3 separate regions of the Homo sapiens genome follow, and all the other regions are linked to region 1. Evidence: fine-mapped expression QTL. A gene starts in region 1. Each other region holds a variant in brackets. All regions are shown on one strand. Distances are from middle to middle. Region 1 holds the start of FN3KRP (fructosamine 3 kinase related protein). Region 2 overlaps TBCD (tubulin folding cofactor D). Region 3 overlaps TBCD (tubulin folding cofactor D).

Region 1 (10,452 bases):
CCTGAGTAGCTGGGACTATAGGTGCCCGCCACCACACCCAGCTACTTTTTATATTTTTAGTAGAGACAGGGTTTCGCCATGTTGGCCAGGCTGGTCTCGAACTCCTGACCTCAGGTGATCTGCCCACCTCGGCCTCCCAAACTGCTGGGATTACAGGCACAAGCCACTGCACCTGGCTGGCAGACACTTTCTGAGTGCACCAGGCTCTGCGGCGGTGTCGTGGGGGCGCCGGGCTCTGGGTGGGGGCACCAGGCTCGGTGGCAATGTCACGGGATCCTTGGGGTGTTGCTTCGCCAGCTGGAAACCTCTGTGGCCAGTCGCACCTTTGCCCAAGTTTTTACTCAGGCCCACTGGGCTCATTCAGTGCACTTGGCCTGACAGGCTGTGCTCAGCTCATGCTACTGGTATGAATCTCACACCTGCCAGGCATGGAGTGGCGAGGGGTGTGTGAGGGAGAAATCGTGAGGTCTGGCCACTGCGCACAGCCAGGCACACCGGCTATGGTAGAGCGGGCCATTTCGGGTGCCACTGGGGGCGCTGGCTCCCTGCGAGGCTGCAGCTGGACCAGGTGCACCATGAGCAGGTTCCATGGCTGGCACGGGGGAATGCAGGGGCACCCAGAAACTTGGAGACGCCGGGAGCCGCAGAGCCTCAGAGACGGTGTCGCAGGCCTGGCTGGGGAGGTCTTAGGTCTGGGCTTCCCGAAGGGACACAGCTCTTCTCTCCCTCTCTCTTCTCTCCTTCTTGTCACTCACAACATTGTTAGCAAGGGACGTGTTTCAGCCCTGTTTGTGTGACAGCTCTTTTAGCCCTGCCATTTGGCAGGTCACGAGTTCTTGTCTTGCATCCAGGAAGAATGAGGTATGGGCACAAGTAGAGGGTGAGCAAGGCCAGCAGGAAATTTACTGAGCAACAGAACAGCTCAGAGGAGACTCGCAGTGGGTAGCTCCTCCCCGCAGGCAGGGCATCCCAGCTAGCGTTCAGCTCTCAGAAGAGAGGAGACCCTGGAATGGGTAGTTCCTCTCTGCAGCTGGCAGTCCCAATGTCTGCTCAGCTCTCAGCAGAGAGGGGAGCCTGGAGCAGGTAGCTCCTCTCTGCAGCTGGTAGTTCCAGCATCTGCTCAGCTCTCAGCGGAGGGGGGACCCTGGAGTGGGTAGCTCCTCTCTGCAGGCAGGTCATCCTGTCATCTCCTCAAATCTGGCTGAGTCTGGGGTTTTCATAGGCTTCAGAGGGGAGGAAGTGCATGCTGACTGGTTCATGGGCGGCCATGGGTGGGCCTGGACAAAGCACTATAAGTTCCCATTCTGGTCCCTCAGCCCAGCTCCCAGGCTTCAGGCCATCCCTGGCTTCAGGGTGGGCCTTCACTGTGGACCTGCCCCTTTCCACCCAAGAGCCTCTCTGCCTCCTGCCGTCATCTATGGCGTCCAGGCTGATTGTGCCAAGGAGCTGCCCTCAGCCCCTTCTCAGCCATGGTTGGGAAGCTGCACCTGCACCCAGGAGGATGGGGTTCCTGCCCACTCCCACCCCCAAGAGCAAAGGAATGCGCAGATCTGGAACCATGGCTGGGCAGCTGCCACTGAACCTGGGGAGCACAAGGCTCTCTCCCTGCTGGCTTGGAAGGTGGGTGGCTTCTGCCTGTTCCTGGCTCCCACCAGCTCCGTGGAGCACGCAGCCCCGGCGCCACCTCCCCACTGCTGCTGGTGTCATGACAGTGACTGCTCCAGACAGGCCGCCGCCATCTGTGCGTGTCACATATCTATGCAGAGACTGCTGCAGACAGGCCGCCGCCATCTGTGGGCGTCGCATGCCCATGCAGAGACTGCTCCAGACAGGCCGCCGCCATCTGTGGGCGTCGCATGCCCACGCAGTGACTGCTCCAGACGGGCCGCCGCCATCTGTGGGCGTCGCGTGCCCACGCAGAGACTGCTCCGGACTGGCCGCCGCCATCTGTGGGCGTCGCATGTCTATACAGAGACTGCTCCAGACTGGCCGCCGCCATCTGTGGGTGTCGCATGTCTATGTAGTGACTGCTCCAGACAGGCTGCTGCCGCCATCTGTGGGTGCCACATGCAGAGTGACCCAGGGGCTTGCCACAAGGGGGACAGTCAGGCAGGGACTCTGTGTGCACATGCATCCAAGCACAAGGCAGGTGTGGGCAGAGAAGCGAGTTGGAGCCATCCTCAGGAGGAGTGAATTACTGGGGATGTTGACCTTGGGACACCAGGAAGAGAATCTCATTTGCAGAGGAGGAAAACGCTGCTGGAACGGAAAGTCTGAGAAAGACAGCAAGAGCAGGACAGAGCAAAGCAGGACGCGGGAGTGAAGGCCTGCAGTGTGGGTGCGTGTGCAAGACCCAGAAACGCGCAGATGTGTGGGGCCAGCAACACCACGGCCACATCCTCAGCCACAGAACAACACACAACATCTCAAGGATGAACTCATCAACGCACCAACGGTTAGTCTCTTATCTAATAAATAAAGCATATCCCGGTTACAAATAATCAACACAGATGTTTCAATGATCTTGAGTAGAAAGTTGAGAGCTTGTCATTTGAGTCAGGAAATGGGACTCCGCGGAAATGATGGCCTTGAGAGAGCCCTCATGTGTTCTTTGTGCAGTCGGCAATTCCATGTAGACAGGAAAAATGGACTGAAAACTTAAACTGATATGATGAAGATAATATCATTCAATTGAAAATGAAAATGGAAAAAGTCATTTATAAACCATTTGAATGGACAAAAAAGAAAATTGGTTAGGAATTAAATTAGCTAGATGAAAGTCACTTTTTTTCTTTTTTGCTTTTTTTTTTGAGATGGAGTCTCACACTCTATTACCCAGGCTGGAGTGCAGTGGTGCGATCTCGGCTCACTGCAACCTCCGCCTCCCGGGTTCAAGCGATTCTCCCGCCTCAGCCTCCTGAGTAGCTGGGATTACAGGCGTGAGCCACAGTGCCTGGCCAAAAGTCACTCTTTTTTTTTTTTTTTTTTTTTTTGAGACGGAGTCTCGCTCTGTTGCCAGGCTGGAGTGCAATGGAGAGCAGTGGTGCGATCTCGGCTCACTGCAAGCTCCGCCTCCCGGGTTCACGCCATTCTCCTGCCTCAGCCTCCCGAGTAGCTGGGACTACAGGCGCCTGCCACCACGTGTGGCTAATTTTTTTGTGTGTGTGTGTTTTTAGTAGAAACAGGATTTCACCGAATAAGCCAAGACGGTCTCGATCTCCTGACCTTGTGACCCACCTGCCTCGGCCTCCCAAAGTGCTGGGATTTCAGGCGTGAGCCACCGCACCCGGCCCAAAAGTCACTCCTAAAAATGCTTTCTCGGCCGGGCACAGTGGCTCATGCCTGTAATCCCAGCACTTTGGGAGGCCAAGGCAGGCAGATCGCCTGAGGTCAGGAGTTTGAGACCAGCCTGGCCAACATGGCAAAACCCCATCTCCACAAAAACACAAAAATTAGCCAGTCATGGTGGTGTGCGCCTGTAATCCCAGCTACTCAGGAGGCTAAGGCAGGAGAATCGCTTGAACCTGGGAGGCAGAGGTTGCAGTGAGCTGAGATTGCACCACTGCACTCCCGCCTGGGCGACAGAGCAAGACTCCATCTCAAAAAAAAAAAAAAAAAAGTTTCTCAACAAAAACTTAACGGTGGCATAGTTCTGATGAAAATCTTCATGTTCATGGCATGGAGTTAAAATGTCCAAACGGTCAAGGCCACAGATTAAAACAGGGACATCCGCAGGCCCTGGCCCGAGGGGAGGAGCATACAGGGAGTGGTTCACCCACTCCACCGCCTTTGGAGCACCTTTTAATTCTCTCACTCTTCTCTAATGTGTTCCTTGATTTATCTATTACCATCTGCGGATTTTCATCTGTTCTTTTTTGCCTTTTTTTTTTTTGAGACGGAGTTTTGCTCTTGTCACCCAGGCTGGAGTGCAATGGCGGGATCTCAGCTCACTGCAACCTCCGCCTCCCGGGTTCAAGCGATTCTCCTGCCTCAGCCTCCCGAGTATCTGGGATTACAAGCGCCCGCCACCACGCCCCGCTAATCTTTTTTGCTTTTTAAAATTATGAAATGCGGTATACACACAGAAAAGTGCGTGAACACACACATATGTACCATTTAATAGATAGTTATAAAATGATCCGCCCGCCTCAGCCTCCCAAAGTGCTGGGATTACAGGCGTGAGCCACCGCTTCCGGCCTCAGGAGAGGATTCGTGTTTGCTTCTCCCAACGTCCAGGGAAGCGACATTTCCTATTTGCTTTAGACTAAAATCTATACTTGAATTTTTTGTTTACTGTAGGTAATATTAACTAGGGTTGCAGTCCGTGGAGGGCCGACTATGCGAACGGTTTCTATGAACCATCCTTTGCTGAAGGCTGAAACCTCTTCGTCCCCTGGGAGAGTTCCTATTCAGGCCTTCTTGTAGTTAGTTCATCCTTGTGTTGACAGCTGTATTAGGGTTCTCCAGAGAGACGGATCCAGTAGGATATAGACGTAGATCCAGGACAGGAGATGGACTGGGGGAGCTGGCGTTTGCAATTACGGAGGCCGAGAAGTCTGTGAGCCGGAGACCCCGGGACTCGGGTAGCCGGGCTCAGCCCAGGTCGGAAGGCCTCAGAAGCGGGGAAGCGGATGGTGTGGCCCTCAGCACGACCCACCCCAAATCATGCCTTGCCAGGTTTCTGGGAATTCCTGGTCCAGCCCAGCTGGCACCTGACACTGGCCGTAACGGCAGGGCCACTGTTAGCTGTTAGCCTCAGGGCCCCAGGTTTAGGGGCGGTGTCTCCGTTGCACGTGCACCCCGAGCGCGCCCGCCACTCCCCACATCAGGAGCTCTGTTCCTCGGGTTCAGCAAACGCCCGGGCGAAAGCAATCTTAACATTCTGGGCTCCCGGCACCCAGACCTTGGGCTGATGCCCCTTGCTAGTGGGTCAGCTCTTTAGAAAATATATTCTAACTATTTCCATCAGCATTTCCACTTATTTTGTGCAGGAGAGTTGAACCCAAACCGTCTGGGTCGGGGTCGGTCAGGCCCCGCCCCCTGACGTCATCTCACCCCCACCCAATCCCCCGCGCCTACCTGCCTCCCGGCCCCTCCCCTTCCCGCCCCTCAATCCCAGCGCTCATCTCTGCGGCCACGCCCGCCCCTTCCCGCCACCCAATCCTAGCGCTTGTCTCTGCGGCCGGGCCCCGCCCCCACCCGCCCCCCGCCCAATCCTCGCGCGGACTCATGTTTGCCCGCTCGGCCGCCGTCTCTCGAGTCTCCGCCAGATCCGGGGCGGGTCCGCGGCCGCGGCGGGAACATGGAGGAGCTCCTGAGGCGCGAGCTGGGCTGCAGCTCTGTCAGGGCCACGGGCCACTCGGGGGGCGGGTGCATCAGCCAGGGCCGGAGCTACGACACGGATCAAGGACGAGTGTTCGTGAAAGTGAACCCCAAGGCGGAGGTCAGGCAGCGGGTCGGGCGGGCCGGGGGACCGGTTTCTTTCCGGAGAGGGTCGCGGGCCTCGGCGCGGGGCGCGGCCTGGGCTTCTCCCGCCGGAGGCCGTGGGTGGCTCTCCCGGGACTGCCGCCGCCGCCCCTTGCGGGGAACCCTTTGCGCGGGGCGAGCGGTGAACGGGGGCGGCGGAAGCGTCCGGGGCGTCCGGAGGAGTTTGCACCTGCGGGGAACTGTCCGGAGCAGGAACCGCGGCCGCCCCACACCTCCTGTTCTCCGTGAACTTTCTCTCGGGGGCGCTACGTGAAATGGGGCGGGACTGGCTGCTGCAGTCTTGCTCCCGGGGTTCCTGCCCTGCGGTGCTGGTTAAGTGGGGTCGTTCTAGCCGGGGAAGCTGCTTAAGTCCTCAGCTTAAGTGACTCTGGAGGTGTCCATCCCCCGTGAGCCTCGGTCAGTACGTTGTGAAACGGGGCGAAGGTGCTGCCCCCAGGCCAGCTGCTGCGCCTCACCACACCCTGGCATGCTCTGTCCTTCTGTTAGACTCATTCTCGGGCCGGGCGCGGTGGCTCACGCCTGTAATCCCAGCACTTTGGGAGACAGAGGTGGGTGGAGCGCGAAGTCAGGAGTTCGAGACCAGCCTGGCCAACAAGGTGAAACCCCCGTCTCTATTAAAAATACAAAAATTAGCTGGGCGTGGTGGCGGGCGCCTGTAATCCCAGCTACTCGGGAGGCTGAGGCAGAAGAATCGCTTGAACCCAGGAGGCAGAGGTTGCAGTGAGTCGAGATCGCGCCACTGCACTCCAGCCTGCTGGGTGACTGAATGAGACTCCGTCTCAAAAAAAAAAGAGTGTTCCTAGCAGCGGTGACATGGCAGCTGTGGTGGGGCTCTGAGGCTGAGGAGGTGGGGACTCTGAAGAACTGAAAGAAGGATGAAGACAGCTGGAAGTCAGGAGCACGAGGAGAGTGTGTGTGTCTATGTGTATGTTGTGTGTGTGTACGTTGTATGTGTGTATGTTTGTAATGTTTGTATGTTGTGTGTATGTATTGTGTGTCTGTGTGTGTGTAAGGGTGGAGCCCCAGGTGAGGATGGGAGAGTGGGCAGGGCAGTGGTGTGTGTCTCAGGAGAAAAAGAAAGGCCGCTGGCCCTGACCTGTTCTGCGGGGATCACTGCTGTGTATGTTGTGTGTGTGTGTCTGTGTGTTGTGTGTGTATGGTGTGTCTGTAAGTCGTATGTTGTGTGTGTTGTGTGTCTGTATGTGTTGTGTGTGTGTTGTGTGTCTGTATATGTTGTGTGTGTGTGTTATGTGTCTGTGTGTGTAAGGGTGGAGCCCCAGATGAGGATGGGAGAGCAGGCAGGGCAGTGGTGTGTGTAGCAGGAGGAAAGGAAAGGCCGCTGGCTCTGACTTCTACTCTAGGGATCACTGCTGTGTGGTGAGCCAGGGGGACCCAAGGGAGGAGTTGCTGTGGTCCCGGGGAGTTGGATGGAAACGGCATCTCAAGATGAGGTGGTTTCCAGTGCTGGGCAGGAGGTGGCATGGAACTTGGTGGTCTCTTCAGGTGAAAAGTGACCCCAGGTCACTGGCATAGGCAGCCAGGGTGCCGCCTGCACCTGAGAGGTCGGGTGAGTCTGTGTCCTGTAGGTGGAACAGGACTGCAGTTGAGGTGTCGTCTGAGGACACTGACAGGTAACCCATGTTCACAGTCCCACTGTTGCCGGATCTTAGTGGAATATTAGTGCCTTCGATTTTCCTCTCTCCAGAGAACCTCCCAATTCAACCACAGCACACAAGTGTAGTCCAACACTGGAAAGCTCAAGCCCTCTTCTTCCAGTACAGCCTCTGAACCTGTAGCCTACCCTGTTGGCAAGTGTGTTTGAAAACACTGTCCATGTGTATGGAATCCTCAGTCAGGATAGTCTTGGTTTGAAGTTGTAATGCTAGAGGAAAACATATCTACAGAACCTTCCGGAAGTAACCTTGCCTCCCTGTATTTCCACTTCCTCTCGTATTTTTCTGACAGGCCAGAAGAATGTTTGAAGGTGAGATGGCAAGTTTAACTGCCATCCTGAAAACAAACACGGTGAAAGTGCCCAAGCCCATCAAGGTTCTGGATGCCCCAGGCGGCGGGAGCGTGCTGGTGATGGAGCACATGGACATGAGGCATCTGAGCAGGTGCATCTTCACACCACCCCCCACCTGGCTTTATTACCTGAGCAGGTGTGTCTTCACACCTTGTTTTATTATGTGTGTCTTCACACCACCCACTGGCTGGCTTTATTATCTGAGCAGGTGTGTGTTCACACCACCCCCCAGCTGGCTTCATGCCCCGCCCCGGCTGGCTTTGTTATCTGAGCATCTGAGCAGGTGCACCCTCACACCAGCCCCCAGCTGGCTTTCTTTTCCACCAAGTGGTTCTCTGATGACTGAAGCTTGTACTGGGGACATCATTTTGAGGAGTGTAATGCAAAGAACCCGTGACTCCACATACCATGAGTTCTGCAGAATGAACGGCAGGCACTCTCTGCAACCAAGGGCAGAAGCAAGAGGAATCTCCCAAAGTGAGATGCTGACCAAAGGCCTCGCTGCACGCCGGCCGCGGTGGCTCACGCCTGGAATCCCAACACTTCGGGAGGCTGAGGCGGGTGAATCACTTGAGGTCAGGAGTTTGAGACCAGCCTGGCCAATATGGTGAAACCCCATGTCTACCAAAAATCCAAAAATTAGCTGGATGTGGTGGCAGGCGCCTCTAATTCCAGCTACTCGGGAGGCTGAGGCAGGAGAATCACTTGAACGCAGGAGGCAGAGGTTGCAGTGAGCTGAGATCGCACCACTGCACTCTAGCCTGGGCAGTAGAGCGAGACTCAGTCTCAAAAAAGAGGAAAAAAAAACCACTGCAAACTTGGATGAGGCTGGGAAAGATCGTCAAATAATCAACACCTTTATCCCCCTCTTGCTTCACCAGAACCTACTTTCTGTCCTCAAAATGTCCGACCTACTAGCCGGCTGTGGTGGCTCACGCCTCTAATCCCGGCACTTTGGGAGGCCAAGGTGGGCGGATGACTTGAGGTCAGAGTTTGAGACCAGTCTGGCCAACACAGTGAAACCCTGCCTCTACTAAAAATACAAAAAAATTAGCCAGGCATGGTGGCGGGCACCAGTAATCCCAGCTACTCGGGAGGCTGAGGCAGGAGAATCGCTTGAACCTGGGAGGCGGAGCTTGCAGTGAGCCGAGATCGTGCCACTGCCCTCCAGCCTGGGTGACAGAGCGAGACTCCATCTCAAAAAAATAAAAAAGTTTGACCCTCTTTATGTGCCCTGAGACTGAGCAGTGGGTGTGTTGCCATTCTGTGTGTCATCTGTTTAGTTGCTGTCGTTTGATTTGACAGTCATGCTGCAAAGCTTGGAGCCCAGCTGGCCGATTTACACCTTGATAACAAGAAGCTTGGAGAGATGCGCCTGAAGGAGGCGGGCACAGTGGGTATGGCACTGCGCGGGCCACGGGTGCTCCCGCCTAGAGGAGGACGTTCAGCCGGTGTGGGCTCAGAGCGGGGGCCGTGCAGCAGCCGTGGGAGGGTCGGACGTGGGCTGATGGCAGAGCAAGGGAATGTCGGCCTTGAGCCGCATCTCACGGTGCACTGAACACAGTGACTGTGATGCGTCTGTTGTGTCCTAAATGCATTTGAAAGATGAAAACATTTGCTGGACACAAGACACCCCTAGTGTTACAGTTACTTTTACCTCTCGTTCCCCAGAAGAGTGTAAGCAGAGGCTCTCTGGCTGTCTGTAAAAGGCAAGACCTTTAACCCAGGGTCTGTTCCTGTAAAACAGTCATACTTGAGGCTCAGAATTACAGCCATCATGTCTGACCTTTCCAGAGCATAACGCGCTGTCAGGATCGAGGGAATTTTCCGGTATTTTAATCTGCTGACATTTGGAATCCGTGTGCAGCCCACATGGTAAATGTGGGGAGATTTGCTGATGATCGGAACAGATCACCAGGGGCCTGCTGTAGGAGACGGAGACATGCTGTTAGTCTGTTCTGTGAGGGTCCATGACGGATCCACCCAGGCGGCCTGTGTGGTGAGGATCCACTGAGAGGCCTCCCAGGTCGCCTGTCCTGTCTCTTCCAGTCTTAACGGAGTTTAGTCCATTGGGATTTTCCTTGAATTAGGGAGACTGCAGAGGAGTGAGATTCTTTCTTTCTTTCTTTCTTTTTTTTGAGACGGAGTTTCACTCTTGTCCCCCAGGCTGGAGGGCAGTGGTGCAATCTTGGCTCACCGTGACCTCTGCCTCCTGGGTTCAAGCGATTTTCCTGCCTCAGCCTCCTGAGTAGCTGGGATTACAGGTGCATGCCACTGTGCCCACCTAATTTTTGTATTTTTAGTAGAGACGGGGTTTCACCATGTAGGCCAGGCTGGTCTCAATCTCCTGACCTCAGGTGATCCACCCACCTCAGCCTCCCAAAGTGCTGGGATTACAGGCGTGAGCCACTGCACCCTGCCTGAGATTATTTCAAAGCACAATAGTTTATCTGACACACATGGCACCAGGTTTGCCACTGAGAGCCATCCTTTCTGATGGATTGGGGGCAGATTCTTTTTCCTCTTTATTTATTTATTTTTATTTTATTTTTTTGAGAAGGAGTCTTGCTTTGTTCCCCAGGCTGGAGTGCAGTGGCATGATCTCTGCTCACTGCAAGCTCCGCCTCCCGGGTCCACGCCATTCTCCTGCCTCAGCCTCCTAAGTAGCTGGGACTACAGGCGCCTGCCACCACGCCTGGCTAATTTTTTGTATTTTTAGTAGAGACAGGGTTTCACCGTGTTAGCCGGGATGGTCTCGACTTCCTGACCTCGTGATCCACCTGCCTCGGCCTCCCAAAGTGCTGGGATTACAGGCATGAGCTACTGGGCCTGGCCTGTTTTTTACTTTTTATGTTTTTTATGTTTTGTTTTGTTTTGTTTTTTTTGAAATGGAGTTTTGCTCTTGTTGCCCAGGCTGGAGTGCAGTGGCGCGATCTCAG
Region 2 (10,452 bases), 170 kb after region 1:
ACCCCGCTGTCAAGCCCATTCCCCCCCAGCCCCTGACGTTGGACATGCTGGAGGAGACTGTGGCCCTGTGGCGTGTTCTGGGCCATCTCCAGGGCCTGGAGCGGGCACCTGTGCCCAGCACTGGAGGCTGGGGGACAAGTGCTCTCTCTGATAAATGCCCCCGAGTTTCAGTTCTGTGGCTGTAGTTTGTAGGTCTCCTAGCTCAGCATCCCCGAGCCCATGCCCTGGGGACTCATGGGGCCGAGGAGAGAGGAGCGCAGAGAACATGAGGATACGTGAGCCCCTTGCCTGAGAGGTGTGCTGTGAACCTGGAGAGCAAGGCCAGTGGGTCTGGGGTGACAGACAGTGCGAGATGCAGGAAAACAGGCTCGAGATGCTGTGAATCTGGAGAACAAGTGGGCCTGGGTCTGGGGCAACAGACAGCGTGAGACACAGGAGAACAGGCGGGATGCTGTGAAACCGGAGAGCAAGGCCAGTGGGTCTGGGTCTGGGTCTGGGGCGACAGACAGTGCGAGACACAGGAGAACAGACGGGATGTCATGTGCATTGTGGCTGGCAGGGCCGGCGCCTCACACACACGCCCCGGAAGTCAGGATGTGGTGCTGACGGTGTCCGCGCTGCCAGGCTGGAGCGGGTGACGGTGCCTGCGCTGCCAGGCTGGAGCGGGTGACGGTGCCCGCCCTACCGGGCTGGAGCGGAGCTTGCTCTCTCTGCAGTGGGACCTGCTCACTTTTCCTTAGCTGGATGTATCTTTCACATTTAGCTTAACAGCAGAGCTGGTGAGAGGACGCACACCTGGCGTCACCATTGTCCCCCGTGCATGTCCCCGGCGTCCTTCATGTTGACGCGGGCCCCGCCCCACGGCTCAGGTCTGTCAACTTCCCTGGAACAAGGCAGAGCACTTGGCCCCTGGAAGACCTGGAAACCAGGAACCTCGGAGGCGCTGGCGGCCTTGGAGGCCGCTTATCTCCGCGTGTCTGAAATTCTGTTTTCCACCTTTTCCCTTTAGGCTGGTAGGAGGCGCAATCTCTCAAGCCTTCCTTAGAAAGGATGATTGTCCTCCACCCTGCCCCAAACCCCCTGTGTTCTGTGCAACGCCTGATGAGAGCGTTCTGGGTTATTCACAGTAACTGAGCTGGGTGATCTCACAAGAGGACATAATGAAGCCCAAGGAGCCTGGTGGGGGCCGGGAGAGGCCTTGCTCTGAGTGTGGCTCGCATGGGGGCAGCGCCTTGGCGTCTGTGTGTGGTGCGGTGGTTTTCCTGCCACTCTGTGGAAGGGGCCTCTGCCAGACGCCTTGTCTTCAGGGCCTCAGGTCCCTCTGGGCACGGTGGGTGTTCATGTGTTTCTGCAGGGTTAGGCTCTGTGCATGGCGTGGTCTGCAGGACCTGGACAGCCCCTGCCCCGGGGCATTTGTGTCGGCCACCTTGGTTTGCCCCCCTGTCCAAACGCTGCCAGTTCTCGTCCTCCAGGGCACTCCGTTTCTGTCTTTTCATTCACTGGACCTCCCCACCTCCTGCGCCGCCCCACCACAGCAGGCCAGGTGCGTTCTGCCCCCAGGCCCTGTCCTCGTGGCTCTTTGATCCTGTGCCCTCGGTGTGCACCGTCTCGTGGCTCTCGTTAGAACCAGGGTCGGCCACCCCCAGCTCCCACATGGCGTCTGGTGTCTTGGGGGTCACATGTGTCTGTCTGCAGTCCCTGGGTGCCTCAAGCTGTGTGTTGCCTGTGGGGCATGTCTGAACCTCAAGTGGGCCTGAGTCGTGAGAGAAAGGCTTTCTCATCGATACTGTGTGGTCTGTACTGTTTTGCAGAATTTCTTTTTAATTAATCCTTTCTCTTTTTCACAGTGCACTGGTGATTGCTGCGGTGTTTGACCGAGACATAAACTGCAGAAGAGCAGCCTCTGTAAGTTTTCTCATTTTGATATTTCCTTTCCTGAAGGTGGGGGGTGGGCCTGGTCTCCCTGATGCTCCTCTGTGCACTGCTGCCTGGCCAGCTCACCCATCCACAGCAGGAGCCGCGAGGGAGCTGCTGAGAGTGCCAGCTGCGGGCAGGCCACTGGTTCTTACTGTCTCTGGGCGTCTTCAGCGTGTGAAGGGCGGTCAGGGTTAAGCATCCCCAGAGCTGCAGCCATCACTGCTGGGGGTTGATGGGTGATGGAGGCGAGTGGGAGGTGCCCGATGACAGGTCTTGGTGCAGGCAGCTGCACGCTGAAGACGCAGAAGAGAGTGGGTTCTGCGAGGGTGGCCAGAATGTGGCGGCGGGACGGGTCACTCACCGGGTGGCTTTGAGCCTCGGGAGGGGCTGTTGCGAGCAGTGGTCAGCTCTGCTTCACCCGCCACACTCGCCTGGGCCTTGCTGGATGTGGGAGCTGCCTGCAGGACCGGGTGCGTCTTGAACACAGATGGCTGGTTTCCTCTAGAGAGAGCCCTGTGACGTTTGGGGTGAATTCTGGGTGTGAGGAGCTGTAGCAACTGCTGCTGCGCTGAGCAGACTACTTCATTTGGCTCAGAGCTGGGCTGGAGTGAGGCCTGTGTCTCTTGGGACCACAGAGAGCGGACAGTTGAGACGGTGGACCAGTCTCAAGATAAGAGTCTTTATTTCAGATACAGATAAGACGCTGAACACGTTTTAAGAGGGTAAGAACAGAGAGGCAGCCCTTTGAGAAAGATGGAGGGGTGAGGTTGGCTTTTGGTGATGGGGTGGGCCCCACAGTTCCTCATGGGCTCGAGCTGCTGGAACTCTGTGTGCAGGCTCAGCATAGCTGGCTTAGTGGGAACCTGTTGAGGGAGCCGTTCACACTCCCTGATACTGTCAGACTTGGGGGCCAGTGGACCAGGTGGAAGGGGTGCTGGGACTGGTGAGGGTTTCCTGTCAGCCCTGCAGTGTGTGGCCCCTGGTGAGTGGGACCAGGCGGAAGGGGTGCTGGGACCGGTGATGGTTTCCTGTCAGCCCTGCAGTGTGTGGCCCCTGGTGAGTGGGGCCGTGCAGGTGCAGTGTTGGTTCTCTCTCTCTCTCAAATGCAGGAGCTCAGATGATACCCTGAAGTCTTTCTAGCTCAAAATGTCTGTCATCTTCTATAGCTTCTGGTGGTCTGCCTGCTCTCTGTATCCTGAAGTAGTTAGAAGTCTTTCTCTGCCTCAGGTCCTTTAAAACTAGAGAGAATTCACCAGGAGAGCTCAGAAGCTCTTCTCTGTCCCTGAAGCTGCTCTTATTTTGTCTTCAGCATCAGTAAAAACCTCATAATTTTTTGGGGAAATCATCACATTTTTGCCCTGCTATTTACCCAAAGGCAGTAAATGTAAGACTTTGAAATATAATACAATTTTATGTTAAATCTGTACTTAAATTAAGCTTTTAGATTTTCTTTACTGCAACCTAAGACATTTCATGGGAAGCAGTAATAAAATTAAAGTACTTAGGCTTCTATGAACCCTGAATATGAAGTGAAATAATATAAATCATTTTTCACATTAAAATCCCTTTAAATTGGCAATAAATCTTTTCTGATAAATACCACCGAGTGCACCTAGCTTACCCTGTAGCTTGCAAAATTAAAACAGCCAAAGGTAAAAGACACCTTTTTGAAGCTTAGTTGGAAATGTGAGGATTGAGGGCCTCATAATTGGGAATCATTTTTTGGAGCTGCTGCTTTCAGATAACAATGTCTCGGTCTTTCTGGCTCAGCTTGGCTTCCTGTTTGACGCTGTGTCACTGGGTGAGGTCACCCCTGTGAGGCCCTGAGGCCTCTTCAGCACCGGCCAGGAGGCAGCAGCAAAAGGCGTTGAAGTCCTGTCCCTCCTTGGGGCTGGACACGGTCCCTTGCCCCTGAACTCTAGACGCCCTGCATTGCCCTGGTGCTCCCATGTCAAGACTGGCCGCGGTCGTCCATCCCATGGTTTGTGACCCTCCCAGCAACGCTGTGAGGAAGGTGCTGCAGCTGGTTCTCAGCATTGGCAGGAGCATGGCGACTCAGGCAGTCAGTGTGTGAGTGAGTTTGTGAAAACAGTTCCAGCTGTGTTCGTTGCTGAATGCTGGTTTTTCTGCATATTGGAAGGAATCTAGCAGACCCCCAAACGTGCTGACATTGCAAGAAGACATGTCTCCCGGCGGGGAAGGAATGGGCAGTAGAGATGGGGTGTGGTCGTGGCTTCTTGTTCATCATGAGGAAGGGAGATGGGGCCCCGTTCACTCACAGTTAAAGTAAAGGCACTTAAAGCCTACATTTAACTGAGAAGATTTTAAATCTTTTTCTTCCAGCATTTCGTTTGATACATAGTGTCTGACCTCTATTTGTGACTTTTTATTTTGGGATAATTGAGATTTATATGCAGTTTTCTCCCCTCCCCTCCCCTCCCCTCCCCTCCCCTCCCCTCCCCTCCCCTCCCCTCCCCTCCCCTCCCACTCTGTCACCCAGGCTGGAGTGCAGTGGTGCGATCTTGGCTTATTGCAACCTCGGCCTCCCGGGTTCAAGCAGTTCTCCTGCCTCAGCCTCCCGAGTAGCTGGGATTACAGGCGTGCACCACCATGCCCGGCTACTTTTTGTATTTTTAGTAGAGACGGGGTTTCACCATGTTGGCCAGGATGGTCTCGAACTCCTGACCTGAAGTGATCTGCCTGCCTCGGCTCCCAAAGTGCTGGGATTACAGACGTGAGCCACTGTGCCTGGCGGAGATTTACATGGAGTTTTAAAGACTAATGCAGGGAGAGCCCATGCGTGTTTCACCATTGCCTCCATGATGAAATCTGGCAAAACCGCAATGGAACATCACAGCCTAGAACATTGAGCCAACCCACCAGTCTTATTCCTTCTTCCTTGGTTTTACCTGTACTCTGTGTGTGTGTGTGTGTGTGTGTGTGTGTGTGTGTGTGCGCGCGCGCGCACGTGCGCTCACGCGTTTACTTCTGTGTGATTGTATCACATACAAATTCACGTATCCACCACCACAATCAGGATACACAGCAGCCCTGTCTTCCCGAGAGGCCTGTGCTACTGCTTTGCCCACAGTCCCTGCTGTTTCCCTCTCCTGACCCTTGGCAGCCACCGGTCGGCTCTCCGTTGCCTATTCTATTCTGTCATCTCGAGAATGCTGTGTAAATGGACTCTGTGGCCTCTAATGCTGTAGCTTTCTTCTCTCGGCACAGCTCTCTGGAGACCCACCCCGAGCGTGGTGGGTGGTGCTGGTTTGCTGCTTCTGTTGCTGAGTGGTGCCGTGGTTTGTGTGACCATTCATGTATTACGACATCAGGATGGTTTCTAGTCTTTAAGCTGCTGTAAACATTCGTGCTCAGGTTTTCGTGTGAGTGTAACTTCCATTTCTCTGGGTTAAATGCCAGGAGTAGTTTCTGGGTCGTGGTAGTTGGACATTTAAACTGCTTTCTAGAGCAGCTGCACCATTCACGTTCGCACCACCACCTGCCCGCAGCCCTGCCTTTCTCTGTCCTCGCTTGTGTCTGACATGGCCACTGTTTTCTGTGTCGGCCTTTTTGACAGGCATGTGGTGATACGTCGTTGTGGTCTTTACCTGCGTTTCTGTCATGCCTGATGGTGTGGAGCATCTTTCACGGGCTTACTTGCCGTCTGTACCTCCTCTTTGGTGAAATGTCTGCTCAGGTCTTTTACTCATTTCTAAGTGGATTGTTTTTTGTAGTT[C/G]TTGAGTTTAGGGCACTCTTTACATATGTAGGATTCTGGTCCTCTGTTGGATTTGCGTTTGGCTTTCTCCCAGTCTGTAGCTCATCTTTCCGTCCTCTTCATAGGGCAAGAGTTTTTAATTTTTTAATTTTGCTGGGGTCTCGATCAGTTTTTTGTTTTTGTGGCTCATGTTTTTAGTGCTTTTTAAGACGTGAAGACTTTCTTAAGGTCTGGGAACTCCACCTCGCCCGGTCCCGGGGATGCTGTCCCGTGTTTTCTGTTCTGCTGGTTGGTCTGCGTGTCTGTTCTGCCAGCGCACACTGTGTGACGGGCTGTGCTGCGATGCTGCTGTGCATAGTCAGCCTTCGCACTGGGCAGGGAGATGCCTCCCAGCGTCTTCTTTCTCAGGACTGTTTTCCCTGTTTTAGGGCTTGTGCTTTTCCACATAAATCTTGAATTTTTAAAACATCTTTTAGATACCACTGGAATGGTACATGTCTTCCTAATAGTGTATGTTAAATTGATGTTACAGTATATCTTTGTTGCATTGCCTTTTGGCGGGTTTTGTTTCTTACTTTCCTAATGAATTTATCACAAAAGTTACAAATTTGCAAAGCAGCAGTCAGGCCTCCTCCCAGCCTGCTGTGAAGCGCCTGTTTCCTCCAATCTCCAGCCCAGCCCAGGGGTCTGCCTTGGAGCCACCCGCACGTCTGGTTTCTGTGTGATTGGCCAGAGGTGGTGGGCGCGTCTGCTCCTTTTCCCTGGGGGGTGGGGGCACAGACCCTGGGTGGCTGTGTTCGGCTCCTTACTTGGTGCCCGTCTGTGTGTGCTCCTCCCAGCAGCCATCGCTCAACCTTGCTCTCAGGAAGCCCCCAGGCGAGTGTTGGCAGGAATCCTGCCAGGCGGGAGGTCGCTCCTCCAGAGCGTGGTCCCTGAAGCCGCCAGCCTCCCTGGCCTCGCCCCTTGCTGGTGGTGTGTGTGGTGTGGCCGTGGGTGCACTTTGCTGGGTCTTCCTGGGACACTGAAGTCTCCTGTGTCTCCAGCCCTGAGAACTCGGAGCCCGGGTGCTTTTGGGAAGGACGGGGCACCAGCTGGTGACACATGGGAAGGGAGGTGTGGTTGTCACCTTGCCCAGGTAACCTGCTCTGCCTGGTCGGTGCGCCTAAGGGGGGCAGGGTGTTTGGGGAGGACATGAGAGGCCTCCTGGAAGCACTTCATCCTGTTGAAGTTCACATTTTGACCTTTTCAGCAGCCCTTGCTCTGGGCCTGTGCCCGGCCCTGGGACTCGGCCTGGAGAGCCTATTGACACCGTGCCATGGGTGCGGGCAGGGCGCCCTCCCTGGAGGGCGGCACGTGGTGCCAGTTGGTGACCATGAGCTGCCTCACTCCTGAGGAAGAGTGTTCGGGCTCTGGGCTTTGATTTAACCTGCCTGTCTGTCTCTCTGAGTTGACAGCCGGGGCCTCCGCGTGGGTGCTGCTGGGAGGCTCAGTGGTAAAGGCCACTTTTCAGGATGTGTCTGATTTTATAAACTTGAATTCTTAAATTGTGGTTTTAAAGAGCACCAGGACGTAAAAACAGAGTGACGCACCTTGAGGCTCTGTTCAGCCAACAATGAGGGCTTTTATTTAAAAAATAAAGCCGTGGGTCATTCACGTTGTGCTGTTTGTTCTGAACTTGCCTCTGGTGTTGGCGGAAGCTGACCTCGCTCACCTGCTGTGTTTGTTCTTTGCTCCGCAGGCCGCCTTCCAGGAGAATGTGGGGAGACAGGTATGGCTGCTTTCAAACACCTTTATTCCAAAAACTTCCTGCGGGTTTATAGGTAGGAATCTTGAGAGCTATAACCCTGGTGTCTTCTCGCACTGTGAGATGTGGTGTGGCTACATCAATGCCAGGGTCATGAGTTCACTATAGGACGCACATGTTAAACAGCGAGTCCTGTTTCACAGGGAACCTGCATGTACAGTAATTTACACACACAGGCCGGAAAGCTGTGCTTTACACGTTGCCAAGAGCCACATAATGTGGCTCTGCAGGGTGGGGCGGGTCCCTGGGACCAGCCTGGCCTTGCGGGGACGCAGACCTGACCCCGCCTCATCCCACACAGAGCAGGAGCTGGCTCTGTTGACGTCAGCTTGTGCCTCATCCAGACCATAGACGGGCCCAGAAGTCAGCTCCCAGAAGCTACGGACCCCATGACCCCACGACCCCACATCATGCTGGGGCTGCTTTTGCTGTGCCCTCTGACCCTGACATCTGGTCACTGGTCAGCTTCGCCTGTGAATGGGGGGCCCCAGGTTACTCATGTTGTGTGTGATGACGTCACATCTTGGGCGTGTGGTTGGGTCTTGCAGGAGAGTGGGACAGAGGCCGGAGAGGGGACCGGGGTCTGGGCTGGACCTGGGCGGGGAGCAAAGTTCCCACGAGAAGTCAGCCGAGAAGGCTCTGGAGTTCCCGGACAGCAAAGCAAATGCAGCCGGGGTCTGGGCTGTGGCCAGGTGGTGTGGGGCGGCATGGGGTGGACGTGGGCCTGCGGACCCTTCTGACCTGTGGGGAGCCCTCCAGGCAAGGTGTCTGACCTGGAGTGGAAGCATTGAGGCCAAATGAGTCCACAGGAAAAGCCGGATGCCAGAGTCAGCTGGAGAGGCGGGCGGACGAGGACTTGCGCCTGTTATTGAAATGGTTCTGGAGGAGCCTGGCGTGAGTGGTGTGGGCGGCTTTCTGTAGACGGAGCCCAGGAAGGGGCGTGACTACTTCTTGCTGGCCCGAGGCAGCCGAGGCCCACCCAGCATCCTTGGGGTGCCGTGGGGCCTGCATGTGTTCAGAGCCCTGAGCCCTGGTCGGAGCCAGTTCACTAGGAAGAGACACCAGCCTTGCAAGGGGAGCCTGGGTGTGCAGACAGCAAGAGCCGCCCAGGCCAAGGAGAATGTGAACGAGGTTTGGTCTTTTGAGTGGAGAGTGTGGCTGCTGTGAGGAAGAAGGAGCTTGTTGGAAACCACTTAGCTGAGCCTAGGGACTTGCCAGCTTCCTGGAAAGTGAGAGCCCAGGAGAAGAAGTCTCCCTGTCCCTGGGCTTCCAGCCCCTCCAGAGCCCCCACTGGAGAGGGGCGTGCTGAGGCCAGAGCCCGGGGTGACGACCGTGCTGGGTGGGCCCTGGGGCGCACTCCGCCATCACTCTGTGTTCCGGGTTCCCAGATGCTGCTTCCTGGGAGGAGCAGCCCAGTCGCATAGGGAGCCACGGGGCCCTGCAGCTGAGCTGACCAGCCTCCCTGTGTGTGTGGCTGGATTTGAGCCACGTTACCTTTATCGGGGCAGCTCAGGTTGGGGATTGATTGACAGGGAAAGGAAAGGCCTTTACACTTGGTCTAAATTTAGGCAAGCAGCCAGAAAATGGGATATTCCCGTGGGTGCGGGAGTCTTGCACCTCAGTCCTGAGCCTGAGCAGTGTGAGTCTCAGAGCATCCTGCACAGTGACCAGCATGCGGACGGCAGCGGGAGCCTCGTGGAAGAAGCGGCACAGATTTTGAAGAGACACAGACTTTGAAAGAAATGCAAGACGCGCAGGTGCGGAGCGTCTCCCAGCCCCGCACGGCCATGTCCTGCTGAGGTTGGATAGAAACATTTGAGAAGAAGGTCGAGAACTTGGCAAGGCAAAGCAAACGGGAGTGGACGTGTCGCATAGCACACAGGGAAGCAGCCTAAAAACCCTCGGATTTGGAGGAGGCTGTTTCTAATACACAGATTTGGAATGAAGTTGTAAGAAATGCGTTACAGTGGAGGCCGCTGGGTAACAGCAGCAGGGATGGGGGGTGGTTGGGGAGCGGCCTGGGGGACACAGAGGGGGCTGGGGGCAGAGACGAGGGACCAGCTTCTCTGTCCAGGTTCGTCTTGGCTGGAGTTGGAGACTCTGGTCCTGAGTGGTCTCTGCCTTCTCCCTACTGAGCCCAGGGGCTCTTGAGCAGGTTGTGACTAACCCATGGGCAGCTTCCACGTTCAGGGCCTGTCCGACATTCCAGCCCTATGACCCTGCTCCTAGGCGAGTGCTGTCCAGGCCCCCGACACCATCAGGCCCTTGTGGTGGCCTGTCCACACCCAGGCCCCCCACTTCCCCCCTGCACAGGTGAGGAAGTTGAGGCTCAGGGCAGCTGAGCCCGCTTTTGTCTGCTCGGAGCCTGTTGTTCCAGCCCTAGCCTGGCCAGACAGAGCCTTGGCCCCTGTGTTGGTCTTGCTTTGTTCTCACCGTGGGGGGATGCTGGACACAGAGTCCCCTTGTTCTTGTTCTCGGTGAGACCTGGTCCTGGGCCACCCCGGATGTTTCCCTGGGCTCCTGCCTGCTGTGATGTGGGGCATGGAGTTGTACCCCAGTGGGCGACATCCCAGGTTGTGGCACCTGCTGTCTTTCTGCAGAGTGAGCCGCAACAGCTCCACCTGGGTGCAGGTTTCTCCCCTGTTCACGGTTCAGTGAAGGATGCTCATGCTGTCACTGATTGCAGCAGCCTCAGGCAGAAGTTTATGGTATCTCCATCAGCCCAAGCTCCCAGTGTAACCCTTGGGAGAGATTTGCTGGAAGAAAGCCGCATGGTACCTGCTCATTCCGGCCTCTCCTGGTGGGAAGGAGGGATGTGGCCCCGGGTGTTCTCAGGAGTGCTGGCTGTTCAGTTACGTTGACTTGCGAAGCTATTACATGAAGGTGTGAGGTTTTAATGGTCAAGTGCAGGGTGGTGATGAATGGGTTAAAGACGTCAAGGAAGGATCTGAATCCCGGCCTCGGAGGTGGGCAGGCTTGGGAGACCTTTGAAAAACCCTGCTGTGGTTTATAGCTG
Region 3 (10,452 bases), 110 kb after region 1:
AGTAGAGATGGAGTTTTATCATGTTAGCCAGGATGGTCTCGATCTCCTGACCTCATGATCCACCCACCTTGGCCTCTCAAAGTGCTGGGATTACAGGTGTGAGCCACCGCGCCCGACCCATATATTTATTTTTTAAAGATAGGATCTCACTGTATTGTCCAGGCTGGAGTGCAGTGGCTATTCACAGGCCCAATCATAGTACACCACAGCTTCCAACTCCTGGGCTTGAGCGACTCTCCCACCTCAGCCTCCTGAGTGGCTGTGATTGCAGGTGTGCACCACCGCCCCTGGCCATATTTTCTTGATCCATTCATTTGTCAGTGGACGCTTGGGTTATTCCCACCTTTTGGGTATTGTGAATAATGCTGCTGTGGACATGGATACAAGAACCTGTTTGACACCCCTTTTTTTAGTTCCTTTGGGTATATACCCTGAAGTGGAATTAGTGGGTCATGTGGTAATTCTATGTTCAGCTTTTTGAGAGCTTATCACTTTTTGTATGTAAAAATTACGAGTGTTTAGTTCTTAAGTCGGATCATGCATAAATGCAGAAACGTAGTTAAAAAATAAGTCTCTTTTTTTTTTCTTTTTGCTATAAAGCTCTAGGAATCGATTTTGCTTTTAGAGATAGACACAAAGGGCTTATCCTGGTTGCAATGGGTGAGCTATTGCAGATGACCTTTGGAGGAATTGTGTCGGAGTGTAGAATTTTCACAGTGTAGCTCGCCATGCATCAGGCACATGTAGCCTGTGCCACAACCATTGTGCTTGGGCGGGGTTCTCCATGCTGCCCTGTTGCAGGAGGATGCTCTGCCCCTGCTTCTCCCTATTTGTCATTTAAGATGATTCCTGGTGCTTTTTGGTGAGCGATCAAATGGTGTTCTCAGAATCTTTGGGCCCTTGACAACGGAGGGCTGTATTCTTGGGGGTGTGATGTGAGAGCTCCTTGTCTGCAGGGTGTGAGGCTTTGGGTCCTGAGTGTGGACCGTGGCATGTGATGTCTTGTCACGGCTCCCTGCACGGCTGTTTAGTTTCTGAAAGCTGGAAGTATAATATTTTTGTTCTTTGCCAAAACATACTGGTGTATATAAACAGAAGTGCCCAGGTGAGCGACTCAGCACTGCGCCTGTGTTTATGGTTCTGCGTCTGACCGTGTGCCTTTTAGGCTGGTGTAGTGGTTGTCTGAGGTGGGTGCCTGACAGGGCTGGGGGACCTGCTGGTGTCCTTGCTGCTGCTTTAGGGACAGCTTGAAGCAGTGTCCTCAGATACCCCTTGGAATTGTGACAAACTCTGTATCCCTCTTACAAGTTTTATAGAACTCTAACCAGTTGCAAATAACTATTTGCCATCCTGAGTATTGTCATTTTAAAATAAAACTATTGCGTCACTCATCTGAATAAATCTGGGAAATTGAGGTAGAATAATCTACCATTCTTCGTTAAAAAATTTACAGGGCTGGGCGCCATGTCTCACATCTGTACTCCCAGCACTTTGGGAGGCTGAGGTGGGAGGATCACTTGAGCCCCGGGAGGTTGAGGCTGCAGTGAGCTGTGATCGCGCCACTGCACTCCGGCCTGGGCCAGTGAGCGAGACCCTGTCTAAAAAACAATTTCATAGGCAAGTTTTTCTCTCACAGAAATTTTATTCTTCCTTTTTCTTCTTAAGCCCATATTTCCATTTACTTTTTTCCCAGAGCATTTTACCCTAATGTAATGTATTTCTGTGCCTAAGAATCTTTATTGATCTATCATTTATCTGCAACGAAAGAAAATAACATAAACATAAACTTCAACTTTTGCATTTTGTATGGCCATAAGATGCTAGTTATTTATTTATTTTTTCCACAGGTGTTCATGACCTTTTTTTTTTATTATTTTTTTAACTATACTTTTAAGTTTTAAGGTGCTAGTTACTTAGAAGTTTTTTTAGATTGGGTTTTAAAAAATTATGAGTACAGAGTTGACCAAAACAACATAAAATAGCATATTATTGAAATTTAGCTCTTAATAAGATAGCTGTTTAGTTTGAGTTATCTTTTGATGAGTCAGGCTTTTTTTGTTTTTATTTTTTGAAATGATTCTTGCTCTGTCACCCAGGCTGGAGTGAAGTGGTATGATCTTGGCTCACTGCAGCCTTGACCTCCTGGGCTCAAGCAATCCTCCTGCCTCAGCCTCTCAAGTTGGTGGGACTACAGGCAAACATCCCATTGCTCAGCTAATTTTTGTATTTTTTGTAGGGATGGGGTCTCCCTGTGTTGCCCAGACTGGTCTTGAACTCCTTGGCTCAAGCAGTCCTCTCACCTCAGCCTCCCAAAGTGCTGGGATTATGGGTGTGTGCCACCATGCCTGGCCGTGAGCCATGCTTTTAACCAGAATAAGGCAAGGTTCTGCAACAGTACAATTTTTGCTTTTTATTTATGTATTTTTTTTGAGAAAAGGTCTCACTCTGTCACCCAGGCTGGAGTGCAGTAGTGTGATCATGGCTCACTACAACCTCTGCCTCCCAGGCTCAGGCCATCCTCCCGCCTCAGCCTCCCAAGTAGCTGGGACCGCAGGTATGTGCCACCACACCTGGCTGACTATTTTTATTAGAGACGGTGTTTTTCCATGTTGCCCAGGCTGGTCTCAAACTCCTGACCTCAAGCAATCCATCCGCTTTGGCCTCTCAATGTGCTGGGATGACAGGTGTGAGCCACTACGCCCGGCCCCTATTTTTACTTTCAGTTTTAAGTGCTAAGAAGTCTTATTCATTCAAGTCTTATTCAAGTAGCTAGGAATGGCAGAAATTTTGCTTTAGCAATGCTGGTGTTTCAACTTTTTCCAAGCTCACGCCTGACCTCTGTGCTCTGTCACTGAGCAGCTTCAGTAGGGTGGCCTCAGTCCTGTGAAGTGATGCGTTGACAGCCACCTGCATGGGGAAGCATTTCCCAGTCTCTGGAGCAGTTCCCATCGTAGTGTCCACTGCATGGTTTCCAGTGTGTTGGGTGAGAGGCTGCCTTTCTTGAAAAGTGAGAGAAAGGGCTGTTGTGAGAGGGGACATGGGGATGGAGAAACCCTTTCTCAAGCAGAGCCTTAGGGGCTGAGGCTCCGGAAGTCTACGCTCCTAAAGCACTCTGAAGCCTGAGGACCCCATGGATGGCCATTGAGTAGCCCCAGGGGTGCTTCGCACATGCCGGTACTTGACCACTGCTTTAAACCCATGTGCACACATGCACGCTCACACACATGCACGATGCAGAAGTGCATACACACGTGTACATGTGCACACTGACACATGCACGTTGACACGTGTACACCCAATCGAATGTGCACAACTACCCCCACAGATAGCACACACCCACACAATCGAATGTGCATACACCCACAGATACACACACGTGCACACCCGTACAATCGAATGCACACATCCGCAGATATGTACACGTGGACACCCACACGATTGAATGTGCCCCCCCACAGATATGCACCTTTGCACACCCACACAATTGAATGCACACACACCCCCCCACAGGCACACGTGCACACCCACACAATCTAATGCACACACACCCCCATAGATATGAGCACGTGGACACCCACACGATTGAATGTGCATACACTCACAGATACGCACACATGCACACCCAATCGAACGCACACACACCTGCAGATATGTACACGTGGACACGCACGATTCAATATGCATACACCCACAGATACGCACATGTGCACATCCACACAATCGAATGCACACCCCCCCGCAGATATGCACACGTGCACACCCACACAGTTGAATGTGCATACACCCACAGACACACATGCACACCCGTACAATCGAATGCACACACCCGCAGATATGCACACGTGGACACCCACACGATTGAATGCGCCCCCCACAGATATGCACATGTGCACACCCACACAATTGAATGCACACACACCCCCCCACAGGCACACGTGCACACCCACACAATCTAATGCACACACACACCCATAGATATGCGCACGTGGACACCCACACGATTGAATGTGCACTCACAGATACATGCACACCCAATCGAATGCACACACACCCGCAGATATGTACACGTGGACACGCACACGATTGAATATGCATACACCCACAGATACACACACGTGCACATCCACACAATCGAATGCACCCCCCCCGCAGATATGCACACGTGCACACCGGCACAATGGAATGTGCCCCCCCCGATTGCACACGTGCACACCCACACAATTGAATGCACACACACCCGCAGGTACGCACACATGCACACCCACACAATCGAATGCGCACACACCTGCAGATATGTACACATGCACACCCACAGAATCGAGTGTGCACACACCCATACATAATGCGCATGCACTCACATGATTGAATGTGCACACACCCAGAGATGCACACACACACATCTAATCAGATGTGCACCCCCACACAGATATGCACATGTGCACACCCACAGGATCGAATGTGCACGCCTAATCAGATGTGTACACCCCTCCCACATATGTACACATGCACACTAACACAAATGTGTACACACCCGCAGGTATGTACACATGCACACCTACACAGTCGAGTGTGCATGCCCCCCACGGATATGCACACGTGCATACCCACACAATCCCATATACCCACCCCCACAATCACGTGTACACACCCCCGCAGATATGCACACACGCACACCCACAGGATCGAATGCGCACACACCCACAGATAGCACACACGCACACCCACACAATTGAATGCGCACCCCCCACAGATATGCACACGTGCACACCCACACAATAGAATGTGCACACACCCGCAGAGATGCACAAGCGCATACCCACACCCGCAGACGTGCACATGCACACATCCACACGATCAAATGTGCACGTGCATCTGCAGACATGCACAAGCAGACACCTACACGCACTCGCAGACATGCACACCCACATGGGCGAATGTGCACACCCCCCCCACACAGATAGCACACGTGTACACCCACACAATTGAATGTGCATACACGCACCCGTTCACAGGTTAATCGCTGCCACAGCTATCAGCTCTTTTTCATTGACTGTTACGGCAAAATATTCTAAAGGATAACATAGATTTATGTTTATTTGCATTTTATGTTTCCTTATGGTTCATATGAGTTTATTGGAAAATTAGCAACATACACATCATTTTGGGGAATGGAAAGTGAGGCAGAGTAAGCCAGAACATTCACTGTAACATTATAAGCAAGTAGAATAAATTGATAATACCTTCACCAGTAATGCACTTTCCCTAGTGGAAATAAATTATTTGTATAAATAGCCTCTTGATGTTTGTGTGTTATTTAGTTATACAAATCACATTTTTCTTTTTTACATATGGCACTTTAATGTTAGTACTGAAAATGTTTTTTCTGACATTTTTTCAGTAATTGTCATTTACATCAAATATGCAGCTAGAGCTAATAGAAAAACAGTTAAAACAATTTGTTGTAATGGTGAGATATTTATAAGGAAACATTTATAAAAGATCTTCTGTAAGACAGCTTAGACTTGAAAATACATATCAGTCTTAGAGTCATTCAGGTGTTTTTACAACCAAAAGTAGAAGCACCTTTTAATATTCATGCTTAATATTTATAAAAACTGAATTGGAGGGTT[TTTTG/T]TTTGTTTGTTTGTTTGTTTTTTTGAGAAGCAGCAGCTGCATTTGTAAAAATGTGAAAGTGCCAGTTCAGAGGTGTTGTAGCTTGCCACCTTGGAAGGCGTGTGTGTGGCCGTAGCTCTGTGAACACACGTGTGAACCCGGCGTTAGGACACCCGGGCCCTCCTTCGTAGTGTGAACACTCTGGCCGTGTCCTGCAGCTTCGCCTTCTTAGCTCCTTGCTGGGATTTTCCAGCATCCCTTAGACTTGTCCTCTTTTGTCCTTTGGGTCTGAGGTCACACTGGGCCTCTTGGCTCTCCATGGAGCTCAGTGTGGGTGTGTCTTGCCGGCAGGCAGGTTCCGGGGCCGCAGCATCCCCATCGCCCACCCGGATGTTCCTGGGGCTGTAGGCCGCCAGCTGGCACAGGGCCACGGCTGCCGTCTGCTTCTGCTCCTCGCTGCTGTCCACCGCGCATGCGTCTGGAGCCTCCTCGCCGGGGCCTGTGGGTGGGGCCCCGTCACCGTCGAGGCTGCCTGGCTTGGTCTCAGGGTGGCTGGGCCCATCCTCAGAACCTTCTGTCCCAGTCTTCTGTGGAACAGCAGCAGCAGGTTCTGCAGCTCGTGGTCGACCGGGGAAGGCAGGCCTCGGAGCCTGGGTGTTACAGGGGTCCTTCACCGAGAGATTGAGTGGAAGGTCCTGCAGCTCTGAGAAGCTGGCGGTTTCCGCCTGGGGGCTGCCTTGGTACGTGGGTTCGTGGGTGGCTGCCAGGTTTATCTCTGATTTCTTGGAGAGGTTGAGGGGGCCCATCCCGGAGCTGTCGTCCGGACTGGAAGGCGCGGCCTCCGAGACGAGAGAGGCGCTTCCGGTCGGAGCAGGAGGGTCTCCGTTCACAACATTGAGGCTAGAAGAAGCCAAGAAAAAGCTTAGTAGGAGCTTGCTTAGAAAAGCAACTGCGTGAAGCAGTGTGAGCAAGTATAAGCCTGGCTCATGGAACCCAACCAGAAACATTCCCTTGGAGGTTTTGAAAATGACATTTTCTTACCTTACTGGAGACTCTGCTGTGGTCTCAGCAGCCTGGGCAGGTAGGCATTCTGTGCTTTTCTTAACAGGCCTGAAGGCTGTGAGGCTTTGCTCTGGCGGGTAGAGTCTTCCCAGTGCGCTGGAGGCTGCCTTGTTGGAGAGGTCGTACAGGCCTTCGCAGGTCTGGCTCGTCTGCATGAAGTCGGTGGGGCTCGGCCTCCCTGGGGAGCCCGTGGCTGCACTCCCTGCGCGGGGGCTCATTTTGGACCCTTCCGTGTCTCTCTGCCCAGCCTTGGAGGAGTCTTTAGCCTCAGGAATTGGACTTTCGAACTCGACGTGTTTTCTGTTGGGGTCCGAAGGGTTTAACCTGGAAGGACTCGAGGCTGGATAGACCAGGGTGGCTTCTTCAAGCAGGTGAGAGCTCTGATCTCGGGTGAGGCCAGTGACAGGTGGGAGTCTGAGACCATAGGAGGAAAATGCAGACTCTGGCCTGTAAAATCCGTAAGGAATCGGCAGGTTAGAGGGATATTGCTGGAAAAACCTGTAGTGATCGTATGTGGCTGGAGATGGAGCCAGGTGCTTAGGGATCGGCCCCGGGTGAGGCAGGAAGTGTCTCGGGTCTTGGGTTCCGTAGACTGACAGCAGGGGTGCGTCACACTCAGGCGAGCTCCCAGCCAGCAGGTAAGGCGAGTAGATGGTGGCCAGCCCGTGCTCTGTGTAAAAGTGAGGCGGGTACTCTGGGATTGTGGGGTGCATGTAAGGGGAAATGGCCCCAAGCCCCTTTGTAGATGAGATTTTATGTGGAAACTCTGGTGGAAGGAAAGGTGAGCCGGCTTTCCAGGGGTAGCCAGGAGTGTGGAAGGCCGACTTGGTGTGGAAAGACACGGCCTTGGCAGTGGGGTTGTGTAAAGCCAGTGTCTCGGGCGCCTCGGCGTTGTCTGGCCCCTTGAGTCTGTGCTCGCCGACTGGAACAAATGCAGAAGGCCGAGCTGCGCCTTCCAGAGCAGGCTGGGCACCGAGGGCGGCTTCCGGAGCTGGGCTCTTGCAGGGTGATGCCCTGTGGAGGGCTGGCTTCTGTCCCAGGCACCTGTGGGTTCCCCGGGCTTGCAGCTCCAGGTTTTCCTTGATGTCTTCCCTGGCAGAGCTGTGCTGAAGCTTCGAGTCGAAGGCAGAGAGTCCATTTGCGACAGACTTGGAAGAGGCTGGCTTCGCCGTGGCATCGGGCTGGTTGGTTTGCTTGGGGTCTAGTGAGTTAGATTTAGGGCACTTGGGAACTCGATCCTGCTCTGATACTAAAGTAATCGAGTTTTTACAAAGACCATACTTCATGTGATTAAAAAGATGTGACTTCTCATTGCAAGTAAAGGGACATTGGAAACATTTATACTTGAAGGGCTTTCCTGGAGGCCTGGGGATGTAATGTGGCTTTTTTGGCTTCCGCTCTTTGAGGAGACTCATTTTCCTCCTTATGCCTTGGACTCTGGCTGTCCAGGTGGCGTGATCACTGTCGACGCCGCGTGCACTTCGTGGTTTCTAAAGAGGCACCTCCCGCTTTGCTTTCTTTCCCGATCACTTCTATCAGAAGCCAGCTCTGCGTGCTGAGGGTCTGGCGAGAGCCTCCGTCATCTGGCGGCTGGGAGCTGTAATAAAGAGCAGTCTTGGTGTCAGGACAGCGAGTGAGGGGTCGGCGAGAAGCCGGCCTCGGCTCGCCACAGTGCCACAGGATCCCTGAAGCAGAACCCCTGAAGGGCTGAAACTGCCTGCTCCTGAGGGGAGCAGCTGCCGGTCACAGAAGCAGCCCTGCCCTACCCTTGGTAACCTGGCTGCTGACTCCCCACCGTGTTTTCTGTTTTCTGAGTCTGATCTGAAAGAGTCACCTCGGGGCCTAGAGGTGGAGTGTGGTGTGTGGTGCGTTGAGTGTCTGTTCTGAGAATGCCTGTAAGCCTTTGAGTTTTGGGAACTTTCATCCTGTGACCTGGACCTTTCCTCGAAAGCGCCCTGCCGGGGGCTGAGGACACCGAGCCCCCTCCCAGGGTCTGGACAGAGTCCTGTCCCAGGGCTGCCCGACTCTGCTTGGGGGTTACACGCTTGAAGCAGTGGGTGTGTGATCGGCCACACTCTCACGTGAAATACGAAGGGGTTTGTGGCTGTTTCCCCTTAACATGTACCCACAGTCACAGAGTGCCCCTCACTTTTACACAGAGCGTGGGCTGGCCACCGTCTACTTGCTCCTACCTGCTGGCTGGGAGCTCTCCCAAGTGCTGTGCGCCCCTGCCGTCGGCCTGTAGAACCCAAGACCATGGATGCTGCTGCCTCCCCTGGGGCCGATCCCTAAGCACTCGTGGCAGTTTCTGCCCACTTTAGCCACGTCGTTGGTGTATTCTAGTGTGCTTGTTTAAAAATGAAGAACATTCGAACACAAGACTCTACCCTACTGCTTCTAAAGTCAGCTTTATCATTAAGTAGCATTTATGTTGTCTCAGATATGAATACAAATGCTATATTTATGTTGACTTAAATGGTTGAAATACTGTTGGTGAATTTGTACATCCTGTGAGTGACAGCAGCATTGTGAGACATGCTTTCACGGTCACCCGGTTCCTGCTGGCCAGGAGGCATGGCCAGCAGCGCCTGCCCGTCCAGATGCACCACCAAATGGAAGAACCAAAGCTTTGCCACACTCCTGCCCGAGAGGAGACCAGAGTGAGTAGTATCCGCTTTAGAGATGGTTGGGTCATGGGAGGAAGCTGTCCTGGCCCTTAACCTTTAGGGAGTGGGTTCAGCCCTCTGGCCACACCCACTCAGGTCCTGGGACCCACCAGAGGCTGTGTGTGTGATGTCAGAGCTGGCCTGCTCTTTTGGATTCTTCCAGAGGGTCTCTGTGTCCCCCTTACCAGCCTCAGGTTTCCTTCAGAGGCTGTGCCGCACGCCCAAGGCTGAGAACAAAGGCTGTTTTTCTTTTTTTGAGACAGAGTTTCTCCCTTGTTGCCCAGTCTGGAGTGCCATGGCGCAATCTCAGCTCACTGCAACCTCCGCCTCCTGGGTTCAAGCGATTCTCCTGCCTCAGCCTCCCGAGTAGCTGGAATTACAGGCGCCCACCACCATGCCCAGCTAATTTTTTTTGTATTTTTAGTAGAGACGGGGTTTTGCCATGTGGGCCAGGCTGGTCTCGAGCTCCTGACCTCAGGTGATCCACCTGCCTTAGCCTCCCAAAGTGCTGGGATTAGAGGCGTGAGCCACCGCACCCGTCCCAGAACAAAGGCTTTGAGAGTCTGGGACTGTCCACCTGGCAGCTGGGCCTGGAGCGACTCAAGCAGCAACTGTGCCTGGGAGACAGGGTGAGTGGGAGATGGGGTGGAGGTGCAATGGATCAAGGCTAAGCACTTTAATTCGTATTAAAAATGTAAAAAAGAAAAGGTCTTTAGGGTCTAAATATTTTCAAACAGCTTAAAAATAAAGTTAAATGACCCAAATGCCTATCAGTGATAGACTGAATAAAGAAAATGCGGCACATATACACCATGGAATACTGTGCAGCCATAAAAAGGAACGCGATCATGTCCTTCGCAGGGAGAAATGGATGGAGCTGGAAGCCAGCATCCTCAGCAAACTAACGCAGGAAGAGAAAACCAAACGTGCATGGTCTCACCCATAAGTGGGAGCTGAACAGTGAAAACACATGGACACAGGGAGGGGAACATCACACACCAGGGCCTGTTTAGGGGTGGGGGTCGGGGGGAGGGAGAGCATTAAGACAAATAGCTAATGCATGCAGGGCTTAAAACCTAGATGATCGGTTGATGGGTACAGTAAACCACCA

The links.
Region 2: its variant is fine-mapped to the expression of FN3KRP in monocytes after interferon gamma (Fairfax 2014, PIP 0.95).
Region 3: its variant is fine-mapped to the expression of FN3KRP in monocytes (Fairfax 2014, PIP 0.95). The same link has a PIP of 0.9 or more in B cells and monocytes after LPS.

The regions. Positions count from the first base shown.
Region 1 is chr17:82,711,454-82,721,905 of GRCh38, forward strand. It overlaps FN3KRP (fructosamine 3 kinase related protein), which reads left to right and starts at 5,253. Exons shown (of 6, transcript NM_024619.4): 1 at 5,253-5,443; 2 at 7,453-7,604; 3 at 8,819-8,910. The coding sequence starts at 5,303. It overlaps LOC101929552 (a long non-coding RNA gene), which reads right to left and starts at 4,800. Exons shown (of 2, transcript NR_136400.1): 1 at 4,114-4,800; 2 at 2,455-2,663. RefSeq lists an enhancer at 1,804-2,303 and silencers at 5,070-5,309, 5,330-5,409, 5,490-5,579.
Region 2 is chr17:82,882,298-82,892,749 of GRCh38, forward strand. It overlaps TBCD (tubulin folding cofactor D), which reads left to right. Exons shown (of 39, transcript NM_005993.5): 15 at 1,848-1,905; 16 at 7,371-7,400. Among named protein-coding and RNA genes, the nearest start is that of ZNF750, 48 kb to the left of the region's middle. RefSeq lists enhancers at 388-1,185, 2,784-3,582 and a silencer at 2,686-2,735. The variant C/G (reference allele first, on the strand shown) is at 5,654.
Region 3 is chr17:82,824,365-82,834,816 of GRCh38, forward strand. All of the region lies in intron 13 of TBCD (tubulin folding cofactor D), which reads left to right. It overlaps ZNF750 (zinc finger protein 750), which reads right to left. Exons shown (of 3, transcript NM_024702.3): 2 at 6,655-8,272; 3 at 5,070-6,513. The coding sequence starts at 8,090. The coding sequence ends at 5,778. Among named protein-coding and RNA genes, the nearest start is that of ZNF750, 10 kb to the right of the region's middle. RefSeq lists an enhancer at 4,389-5,235. The variant TTTTG/T (reference allele first, on the strand shown) is at 5,631.